Linked DNA regions of Homo sapiens. The protein of the gene in region 1 purifies or fractionates together with the protein of each later gene. This does not show direct contact. Each region holds a gene or a part of one and is shown in the gene's direction. Other genes may lie near its edges.

The links.
Region 2: the proteins of WDFY2 (region 1) and ERCC6L purify together in Homo sapiens (affinity purification with mass spectrometry; 3 studies listed by BioGRID and IntAct, with this or other methods). This does not show direct contact.
Region 3: the proteins of WDFY2 (region 1) and SLC7A3 purify together in Homo sapiens (affinity purification with mass spectrometry; 4 studies listed by BioGRID and IntAct, with this or other methods). This does not show direct contact.

Annotation. Positions count from the first base shown.
Region 1 is NC_000013.11:51,582,569-51,586,316, forward strand, and holds the start of WDFY2 (WD repeat and FYVE domain-containing protein 2), read left to right. Parts: upstream 1-1,893; 5' UTR 1,894-2,119; coding exon 2,120-2,256; intron 2,257-3,748. UniProt on the Homo sapiens protein: Acts in an adapter protein-like fashion to mediate the interaction between the kinase PRKCZ and its substrate VAMP2 and increases the PRKCZ-dependent phosphorylation of VAMP2.
Region 2 is NC_000023.11:72,211,288-72,215,035, reverse strand, and holds part of ERCC6L (DNA excision repair protein ERCC-6-like), read left to right. Parts: intron 1-3,748. UniProt on the Homo sapiens protein: DNA helicase that acts as a tension sensor that associates with catenated DNA which is stretched under tension until it is resolved during anaphase. Functions as ATP-dependent DNA translocase. Can promote Holliday junction branch migration (in vitro).
Region 3 is NC_000023.11:70,929,418-70,933,165, reverse strand, and holds the start of SLC7A3 (cationic amino acid transporter 3), read left to right. Parts: upstream 1-2,069; 5' UTR 2,070-2,189; exon of another isoform or gene 2,190-3,143; 5' UTR 3,144-3,168; coding exon 3,169-3,538; intron 3,539-3,748. UniProt on the Homo sapiens protein: Uniporter that mediates the uptake of cationic L-amino acids such as L-arginine, L-lysine and L-ornithine. The transport is sodium ions- and pH-independent, moderately trans-stimulated and is mediated by passive diffusion.

The DNA of each region.
Region 1 (3,748 bases):
CAGTGGAGGTTATCACATAACGACTATTGATGAAAAGAATTAAACTTTGTAAAATATTTTAAGAGATTTATTCTGAGCCAAATATGAGTGACCGTGGCCCGTGACATAGCCCTTAGGAGGTCCTGAGAACATGTGCCCAAGGTGGTCGGGGTACAGCTGAGTTTTATATATCTTAAGAAGGCATGAGACATCAATCAAATACATTTAAGAAATACATTGGTTTGGTTCAGAAAAGTGGGACCACTTAAAGCGGGGGCTTCAAGGCTATAGGTAAATTTAAACGTTTTTTGGTTGACAATTGGTTGAGTTTATCTGAAGACCTGGGATCAACGGAAAGGAATGTTCAGGTTAAGGTAAAGGATTGTGGAGACCAGGTTTTATTGTGCAGAGGAATCTTTTAGATAGCAGCCTTTAGAGACAGCAGGTTGTAAAATGTTCCTTACCAGACCTAAAACGGTGCCTGGCTCTTAGTTGGTTATCTCCTGGGTGTAGGAAGGAAGGAAGGAAAACAAAGGGGAAAGGGGATATAGAATGTGGATTTTTCCCACAAGAGACTTTGCAGGGCAATTTTAAGGCATGGCAAGGAAATATAATTTGGGGTAAAACATTTTGATTTTCTTCCTTGTTACGCCAGAGTCAGACTGGAAAGTAAGTCATGACCTACATGGTCAAAACCCATCTGATGAGAATTTATGGTTTTTGTAGGCCATGACTCCCCAGACCCCTTAGATAGGAATTTGGGCAAGATAAAAAAGCAGAGCTTAGTCTTCACGATCAACCCCACATGCCAGGCCTTCTGGTAGGCACCTAACATTCAGTCAGTAACTACAGTAACTCTGTCCGTTGTGTCTGGAGCAAGCTAAAAAGGCTGGATTGCTGGGGAAATGGAAAGAAGCCAGCACTAGGGGCCTGGGTTCAAGTCTGGAGGGAAGGAGGGGTTGTTTAGCCCTAACTTTGCACTAAAGTAACCTTGGCTGTGTAATTTAGCCATCTAAGAAAACGAGGGGATAGACACCCCATATGTTCTCTGAGCTCCCTTGAAGATGTCTGTATGAAAGATTCTCTCCTTTTCATGTCCCTTCCGTGCCACTATTCCGAGCATCAGTCTGACCCTAGGAGTGGTGACGTCCTACTCAGCTGGGGGCTGCCCCTCAGTTCCCATAGAGGCAAGTCTGGGTCCTGACTTGGCCAATGGCCCTGGAGGCCGCTGAGCTCCTCAGGCCCATAGCGCAGAAAGTGGGCGATAGGTCATTCCAGGACAAGGGGGCGGAGGCTCCAAGAAACTACGACTCCCAGGAGGCCACTGGGTTCCCTCCGGCAGCCTGGGCCTGGTGCATGTTGGGAGCAGTAAGCGGCCTCCCGCCGCGCTTCATTGTTAAGACCGCTAGGCCAGGTAGCCCGCGCGCATGCCAAGTCACGTCCCAACGAGTTGGGCGGCTTTCCTTCCTGCAGGCCTCTTCTCTTTCCGGTCTTGCTGAGGCGCTCCTTTCCCCGCCCCACCTCCGCCCTCTTTTCAGGGAATTTCGAAGGGGCGTGGCGTCTGGCAAGCGCGTCCCCAGGGGTGTGTATACGCGCGTTCACGGGAGGTTAAAGAGGGAGGAGCCTAACCCTTGGGTGTGTAAGGCAGAGAGAAGACCGCGAGGAACGGAAAGCGCATGCGTCCTAGTGGTGCTGCAGCGCCCGGGGAGTCGCGGAGGGGAGGGGTGAAAATGGGCTTGCGGGACTGACGCACGCGCATTGGGATACCAGATCCCCGCCTCCTGCTCCAGGTTTCCCCTCCTCCTTCACCACCCTCCCGGAAGTGGAGCCGCCCTCGCGCCCACCAGCGGCTACCCCCTGCGGCAGGCCCCGCCCACACAGGCTCCGCCCCCCGGCGCTCCGCCCCCTCCTCTTGTAGTGGCGCCGGCTTGCATCCCAGGTCGTGGCGGTTTTGGTGCCTGAAGCAGGGAGCGCGGAGTCGTTCCCGAGAGAGGCGGCCAGGCTATGCTCGCCGGTTTCCGGCGTTCCGCTCCGGCCAGCCAGAGTCTCTGTCTCAACCTGTGTCCGTGCTCCAGCAGTCTCCTCAGCCCGGCCCCGCGGCGCGGTTGGCGGCGGCGCCCCAGGCGCGCCCCCTCCTCCGATGGCGGCGGAGATCCAGCCCAAGCCTCTGACCCGCAAGCCGATCCTGCTGCAGCGGATGGAGGGGTCCCAGGAGGTGGTGAATATGGCCGTGATCGTGCCCAAAGAGGAGGGCGTCATCAGCGTCTCCGAGGACAGGTATGGACTACTGCCATTCGGCCGCGAGGAGGGGCGGGACGGGCCGACGGCCCTCGAGCCCGCGTCAGGGGCTGTGCCTTCACGTCGGCGCGAGTGTAGACTTGCTCCCCCAAGTTTTATTGTAATGCGCATCCTGGTGGTGCCGGTGTTCAGCTGCGCGCCGCCTCCGCTGTGTGGCTCCGGGAAGCGGAGCCGGGACGGCGGCGAGCGCTCCGGCTTCACCCCGGGCTGGGTAGTGCCTGCGGGAGCCGGGTGGCCCTCGGGCTAACGGTGCGCTGGAGGGACTTTGGTCCATCCCTGAGGACAGGAGGGAAAGAGGGGAGGAGCCGCCCGGCTTTGCAGGTGTGTGCTTGGGGAACGATGCCCTGAGCCGCCTCTGCAAGATAACCAAGGGGTTTGGGGTACTCTCGTACAGCTCCCAGGGTTTCAAACGGAGAAAGCAAATGCCACTCCTTCTTCCCAGACATTCCTACTGAATCCAGATAACCCAGACATCTTAGGCTGAATTCAGTGAATATTCTAAGTTGTACCAAGAGTAAGTTTAGGCTTCTGCGTGGTGCCTTCTTTCCTTTCCCCTCCTTATCTCTTGGAGCTCGAGGAGAAGCGCGTAGAACTTGTAACGGATCACTGCTGCAAATAGCTCTTGAGTTCCTTCCCTTTGCCTGTTTCCTTTATTTTTGCTTAATTTTGCTTAATATGCAGAAGTGGAACTAGTTGTTCTGCCTTCAAATACTCTCTCTGTTTTGCGTTTTCGCTTTAACTGAATTTCCTTGAATATGCAGGAATAAAGCTGATGAAGCTAATTTCTAGAGTAATGTTGCTTGAAGATAGTATTATGATAATTTATCTGAAATTGTTTCTTTGGTAAAATCTATATAAGCATTCTTACAAAAGAACACTGTAGAGGTACATAACACGGGGATTTTACAGTAAGTAGGTTTTCTTAATATAAGTTCAAATCATGCAGAGGTAAAGTATCCTTTCTTGGTGACTCAAAATTGAGAGGCTGAGCAACAAAGTGCTCATTGCTGTCTTTATAGTCATTTCCGCACTTAGCATAGTGTGTGGCCTCAACAATTGAGCTCGATAGGTTTGTTCATGTCTTAGGTTCTTCAGTATAACTAGGATGAGTATATTAATGACATGTTCTTGTCTACATCATGCTCAATACAAATGGCGCCTGATTAATTTCCTGTGCAGATCCAATGGAAAACATTGTAAACATACACCAGTGGCAAGCATTCTGCAATGAACAGAAGAAATTCATGGCTGAAATGGAGTACATGGATGTAGGACCCTTTTGAAATTCACAGAGAAGCCTTATGAGAAAGTTTGATTTTTTCCATAAAGGCAAAATTTTATTAAAAAGACTGCTTCTGGACCTAGAAATTCTTTGGCACAGTATTGTTTTTATGGGATATATTCCATAAAATATATTGAAGGAATATATTGGTAGATGTCACTTTCCCAGTCTGTAACTACTGGAGATGGA
Region 2 (3,748 bases), on another chromosome or scaffold:
TATGAATATATCACAGATTGGTGGGTTTTTTTGTTTGTTTGTTTGTTTTGAGTCAGAGTCTTGCTTTTTCATCCAGGCTGGAGTGCAGTGGCTTGATCTTGGCTCACTGCAACCTCCATCTCCTGAGTTCAAGCGATTTTCCTGCCTCAGCCTCCTAAGTAGCTAGGATTACAGGAACCCGTCACCACACCTGGCTAATTTTTGTATTTTTAGTAGAGATGGTGTTCCACCATGATGGCAGGGCTAATCTCGAACTCCTGACCTCAAGTGATCTGCCCACCTCGGCCTCCCAAAGTGCTAGGATTACAGGTGTGAGCCACCGTGCCTGGCCTAAACTTTTGTTTTGTTTTTTTTTTTTTTTTTGAGATGGAGTCTCACTCTGTCATCCAGGCTGGAGTGCTGTGGCATGATCTCGGCTCACTGCAACTTCCGCCTCCCTGGTTCACATGATTCTCCTGCCTTTGCCTCCAGAGTAGATGGGATTACAGGTGCCTGCCACCATGCCTGGCTAATTTTTGTATTTTTAGTAGAGATGGGTTTCACCATGTTGGCCAGGCTGGTCTCAAACTCCTGACTTCAGGTGATCCAACCGCCTCGGCCTCCCAAAGTGCTGGGGTTGTTTCCAGTTTTTGGCTATTAAGAGTAAAGCAACATTGTTTGTTTTTTTGACTCTTAAATGCCTGTCTTATAAATGGCGCTAAGCAGGGAAAAGCTAATTATTAAATATTGTTTGACTGAAATGTGAACCACATTTTTCCCTAATTTATGTCAGAAATCACTATTTAATAATATTGTTTGTGTTTATATGTGATTTTAAAATGATCCCCACCTTAATTAAAATGACCATCCCTGAAAGTGAAGCCAAAAGGAAGGAATCCTCCTAGCCTACTCTGCCATGACTTGGGCTTTAAATGGACCTGTTTTCAATACTGGCATTCAGGTCACCTGCAATTTTTATGTTATCCAAATGTTTTATGTTTTATTGATTTTGATGGAGAATCAAAAGACATCTGTTGTGTCTAATGCATCTACATGCATCTTGACAAGGGGACTGGACATAGAGACATGTCAGGGAGCAGATACTCCAGGAGCTGGATCAGTATAGGGAAACTGTTAACGGACAGGTCTTTGTTCTCAGAGCTCCCAAGATAGTGGTGGGCCGCTCCCAAGATGGCAGCAAGCCTTTTGTTCTCTGACCTGGGGTTCTTGGCCTCACGGATTCCAAGGAATGGAACCTTGGGCCACATGGTGAGTGTTATAGCTCTATTAGAAGCCGTGGGTCATGGAAGAGAACCGTGGAACCCAGCAACTAGTGTTCAGCTGGATTAGGACGAACCCGGGCACTTAGCCATGCAGGAACAATGGCGAGCCTTTAGCCCGATTGGGAGCGGCAATGGGCGCCTTGCTATATCAGAAACGCAGCGGACACCCTGCCATATCTGGAGGGGTGGAAGTCAGCGATGGGTCTGCAACGGTGGCAAACAGCAGTGGTGGACGGTGAGCGAAAGCTCAGCTCGAGCCGTAACAAACACAGACCAGAAGAGTGTGCAGTTGCAAGATTTAATAGAGTGAAAACAGAGCTCCCATACAATGGGAGGGACCCAGACGAGGTTGCCCCTCCCGGCTCGAATGCCTGGATTTATATCCCGATCATTTTCCCTCCCCCTGTGCTCTCGGGCGATATATGATTTGACTATTTCTTTACCTCCTGCTTTTAGCCTAATTTGTATTTCAGTGAGCCCTCTTTACTACCTGATTGGTTGGGTGTGAGCTGAGTTATAAGCCCTGTATTTAAAGGTAGGTGTAGTCACCTTCCCCAGCTAGGCTTAGGAATTCTTAGTCAGCCTAGGAAATCCAGCAAGTCCTGTCTCTCAAAACTGGGTTCTTGTTGAGAGGACAGCAATAACCCCACTCACATGCGCCGAGATTAGCAGGTCTAGGCTCCTCCACCCCTATATGGGCCTAGTGGCTGGTGGCCAGATTACAAAACAAAGAGCATTTCTGATTGTTTTGCATGTGAAGAAAACAAAGTTTTATTGAGTTAGGGTCTTTGCATTCAGTTCTCTGTCTCTTCACATTCTTTTTTTTTTGAGACAGGGTCTGGCTCTGTAGCCCAGGCTGGAGTGCAGTGGTGACACGATCATAGCTCAATGCAACCCCTGCCTCCCAGGCTCAAGCCATCCCTCCCACCTTAGCCTCCCAGTAGCTGGGTCTAGGCGCATGCCACCAAACCCGGCTAATTTTTTTTCTATTTTTTGTAGAGACCAGGGCTTCACTATGTTGCCCAGGCTAGTCTCAAACTCCTGGGCTCAAGCAATCTGCCCGCCTTGGCCTCCCAAAGTACTGGGATTAGAGGCTCAAGCCACCGCTCCCAGCTGTCTCTTCACATTCTAAAATAACTTTGTAGGGAATGTTCTAAAGGGCCCTCCATAGCAAGGAAAATCAAGTGTGTGTCTTCTGCAACTTAAGCTTGTGTGCCTTTTCAGCTGCTCATTTGTAAACACTGTGTGTTTAACTTAGCTTAGCTCTTTGGGGCATAGGTCTAATAGTATGGCTTATGGGTTTCTCCAGATAGAAAAACTTTTCAGCATCTGAACTGGCAGACCCTCTGTGGAGAAGAAAGGTTTCTCAAGGTATCAGCCAGTTCCAAAGGGAGGTGGATTAGATGTTGAGAGGTTAATTGGCTATGGTCAAGGAAAATGTTTGCATCTGAGGAAATAGCTTTGGGGCAGAGATGATTTTATTATTATTATTATTATTTTTTTTGAGATGGGGTCTCGCTGTGGTGCACGGTTGGAGTGTAGTGGTGCGATCTTGGCTCACTGCAACCCCCGCCTTTCACGTGATTCTCATGCCTCAGCCTCCCGAGTAGCTGGGATTACAGGCACCCACCACCATGCCCGGCTAATTTTTTTGTATTTTTAGTAGAGACGGGGTTTCACCATGTTGGCCAGGCTGGTCCTGAACTCCTGACTTCAGGTGATTCAACCGCCTCAGCCTCCCAAAGTGCTGGGATTACAGGCATGAGCCACCATGCCCAGCCACAGAGATGATTTTATATGGCCACTTGGGCAGGGCTTCTTATAGAGAGACCTTTAGGTGGGGTTATGACCCAGGGGGTTAGCAACTGGGCAGTTTTGCCAGCGAAAGTGTAGCTTTCCAGGTAACAGGACTTTGTAGCCCAAGTTTAATTGTTGTATCACCTTCCTCCAGGAGTTGTTTGTATATAATATTTCTTTTTTTTTTTATTTTTGAAACGGGTCTTGCTCTGTCACCCAGGCTGTAGTGCAGTGGTGCGATCATGGCTCACTGCAGCCTAGACCTCCCATGCTGAAGCGAACTTCTTGCCTCAGCCTCCTGAATAGCTGGGACTGACTACAGGTGTGTGCCACTGATATGGTTTGGCTGTGACCCCACCCATAATCTCATCTTGAATTGTAATCCAGATTGTAATCCTCAATCTCATCTTGAATTGTAATCCAGACTGTAATCCTCACGTGTTTGGGGAGACACCTTGTGGGAGGTGATTAGATGTCCTTTAAAATAATCCTTAAAGAGAAACATGCTCTAGTCATATAATTTCAGGTAAAACCATTTAAACATAAAATTTTTGTTTTTATTGTCCATTCCTATGGAATTAAAAACTGACATTTCACCCCATACTCTAGCACTATTCTTCTCCTTGTTCTCTTGCTTGAGGGTTATGGTTCTTTGTCCTGAACTGGTTACTCCTCCCTGTCCTCTTGGC
Region 3 (3,748 bases), on another chromosome or scaffold:
GTATATACATGAATATACAATACTATTAACTGTATCAAGCATAATACAGTGTTATAACTATAATGACCATGCTGCACGTTAGATCCCCAGAACTTAGTCATCTTGCATAACTGAAACTCTACATCCTTTGACCAACATCTAGGCAAATTTACAGAGGCAAAAAAATTGATTTGTGGTTGCCTAGGGATACGGTGAGGGGATTGGGAGAAAATGGGGAGTGTCTGGGAATGGGTACAGGGTTTCTTTTTGGAATGATGAAATGTTCTAAAACTGATTGTAGTGATGGATACACAACTCTGTGACTGTATACTAAATCCTATTGAATTGTACTCTTTAAAAGACTGGATTTCATGGCATTTGGATTTTATCTCTGTGATAAATAATCAATCTCATAATCCAATCAATCACCTAATCTAAGCAACCAGATCATATACACTAATATATCGTTCCAAATATGTATCAAGTTTTTCTTGAGTACTTTCCATGTGCCAGGCAGGAAGACTTGACTTCATAATCTCATCTAAGCATCACAACAACCTTGTGAAATATGTATATTATGTCCAGAAACTGAGGCTCAGGGATGTTAGGTAATCCACAGTGGCTGAGCTGTGAGTTTAACCTAGGTGCAATTCCAAACACAGCACTCCTAACGTCTATGTAATAAGGTTTCAGTTGTATAGTGTGTGTTTTCTTTCCCTAGTTAGATTAGGACTAGGAGGGCAAGGATTTTATTTTATGTTTCCTTCATAGTCTCTTCATTGCTGTACCAGCTACTACACATAGTGCTCAATAAATGCTCAATAAATACTTAATGAATGCCAAATGGAGCTGCAGCTGGTTGAAAATACCAATTCTTTCAGAACGGATTTAGATTTTAGATTCATGGGTAATATATTCATCATGGATCATTAAAAGAAGCAAGGATATTTGAGTCCATCCTTAGTCCCCAAGATGTCTTGGTGGAGCAGGGACCACACTTTCACAACCTTTGGTGCTTTCTTATGAGTAAGAATTGATTGGGTCAGATGGATTATGGATCTGACCCAATGTGATCATTCGTAGATTCTTCGGGTCCTTTTCTGTTTCCTAGTATCTCCTAGCCTAAACGGACCTACCCTGCTGCTGATGCCTCTCCCTGTTTGTCTTTCCTTGTGGCCACATCCCTCTTCTTGTTCATTTGAATAAGATATGGTGCCTACGGGAGGCAGGCATTGAAGTCCAACAGGCCAGGTTTTATCAAAGGTGGTCAACAATAATTATGGTGTGGTGTCAAACAAGTCATGCCTCTGAGCCTCAGCTTACACATCAATAAAATGGAACTAAACAAGCTTCCTCCTCCAAGATGTTGGTATTGTCAGAATTTCACATTTAATAGTTTAATATTTATAGGCAGCTGGAGACACATTATAGAGAGATTGGGGCCTATAAATCAATTTAGACTGGATTAATTATCTGTATACAGGTGGCTTGAAATCATCTTCCATTCTCCTGCTGCCTGCATTAGAAACACCCACAGCTGAGCGTGAGAGCTGAAGGGTCAGGGTCAGATGTGTAGACAAGAAAGCTAAGGAAGAAAGACTGAGAGTGAGGTGGAGACTCCCCTGCTGTGTTCCGCTTCACTCCTGACACACACACACACACACACACACACACACACACACACACGCACCCAACTCCCCCCCATCACACCCCACCTACCTTCCCCATTCCTGCCCAGAATCACTGGTCCTAACAGGGCACAGAGGTGGAAAATCTCATGGGTTCTTTGGCCAGGAAGCCTCTTATTGTCCTGTTCTGACGACCAGCGAGACAAATGGGAAAAGACTGCCCTCCCCCTTTTCTCGCTCCCCGGCACGCCAGGCTTGCTAGTGAGGATGGGACGCAGTCTCAGGCCCCACGCAATCCTTTTGCAAAGCCAAGAAGTGTGTGTGTTGTGTGTGTGTGTGTGTGTGTGTGTGTGTGTGTGTGTGTGTATTGTGTGTAGCGAGGAGGATTGGGGGTGGGATCCCATGACGTTACCGGCTCCGCCTCCTGGTGTATATAAGGGGCGCTTGGCGCGCAACGACCCCAAGCCGCAGCTTTGAAGCCTGAGCGGCCGAACTCGGCAGCTCCAACCCAACTCGGCTTAACTCCGCCTCACCGAGCCCAGTCCAAGACTCTGTGCTCCCTAGGTTTGCAACAGCTCTCTGGTAAGCGTTGGGGACCCACACGTGTGTCGGAGGGGGGACGGCGAGGGTCCGGGCGTACCTAGGATTCTCTGGCAACCATGGCATGCAGTTGCATCAACGGGGCCGTGACCTGTTGCTGGCGAGACCCCCGCCCCGGGAGTTAGGGCTCCCGTCTCCACCCCAGCTCCAAACCATTTCTAGATGGGGGCAGGAAAATCTGGGACCTGAGTCGGGGGGCATCGGGTGGAACCCTTCCTCTCTGCTGAGAGGAGAGTGCGAGCAATCTCGGGCTGCCCTGGGGCCCCTCTGGGGGCGCATCTCCAAATCTTTAGATGTCGAAGCCCCGCCTCGCTGTTGATGCTTGCAGGTCAGCCTAGCAGGGCTTGGGAGGAAGTAGGGGAACATTTGCTTACTCCCCTGGGCGACAGCTGCGCTAGTTGAGCAGTGTGGGCTTGGTGAGGAGGGATGGAATTGAGTCGGTGCTCACTTTTAATCTGCAGCGAGGTTGGTCCCCTCTCCCTCTGGGGGGTCTGGGGGCTGTGTCTGTTTGAAGCCCCGGGGGAAGCCCCTGGGTGGAGCTCTGTTTAATTCCCAAATAGCCACAGGCCAAGGAACTGACACATTAGGTTTCAAGATTCCTGGGTTGAGATTAGGATAAACCCTATCAGTTTCTGGCAAGAGAAAGAGACCTAATATTGATTGAGCACTTACTAGGCGCCAGCCACTCTACTTCAGGGGGCTTTCACGTGCCATTTCTGAAATTAGCCCTTCCAAAAACCTTGTAAGGTATTGTAATTCCTACTTGTTTATGAAGAAACTGAGGTTAGAGGTAAAGTGACTTGCCTTTGTCCCTTCCATATCCCCGTCCTCATTTCCCAATAGCTCCTTTGCTTGGTGGAGGGGGTCTTGTAATTCGCTTTCAGAGTTTAGGGATAATGAGCCCTGTCGAGGGGTTTTTGTCTTGTTTTTCACCAGATCATCTTCTTCAATTCCTGCTAGGATGCCGTGGCAAGCATTTCGCAGATTTGGTCAAAAGCTGGTACGCAGACGTACACTGGAGTCAGGCATGGCTGAGACTCGCCTTGCCAGATGCCTAAGCACCCTGGATTTAGTGGCCCTGGGTGTGGGCAGCACATTGGGTGCAGGCGTGTATGTCCTAGCTGGCGAGGTGGCCAAAGATAAAGCAGGGCCATCCATTGTGATCTGCTTTTTGGTGGCTGCCCTGTCTTCTGTGTTGGCTGGGCTGTGCTATGCGGAGTTTGGTGCCCGGGTTCCCCGTTCTGGTTCGGCATATCTCTACAGCTATGTCACTGTGGGTGAACTCTGGGCCTTCACCACTGGCTGGAACCTCATCCTCTCCTATGTCATTGGTGAGATATGGTGGGGGAGGGAGGGAACTGCACAGCCAGCAAAGGGGTTTTTGGTCAGGAAATCTGGGTGGAAGTATTCTTTATATTATTCACAGGACCTCAATCTCCCTAAATGTGCGGGTTTGCTGGGGGTCTGGGGGGGGGTGTTGAAGGTGTGGAGAAATTGCTCATTCTATCCATCTCCGTCCTGGTTTCCTTAATTAAGTGAAT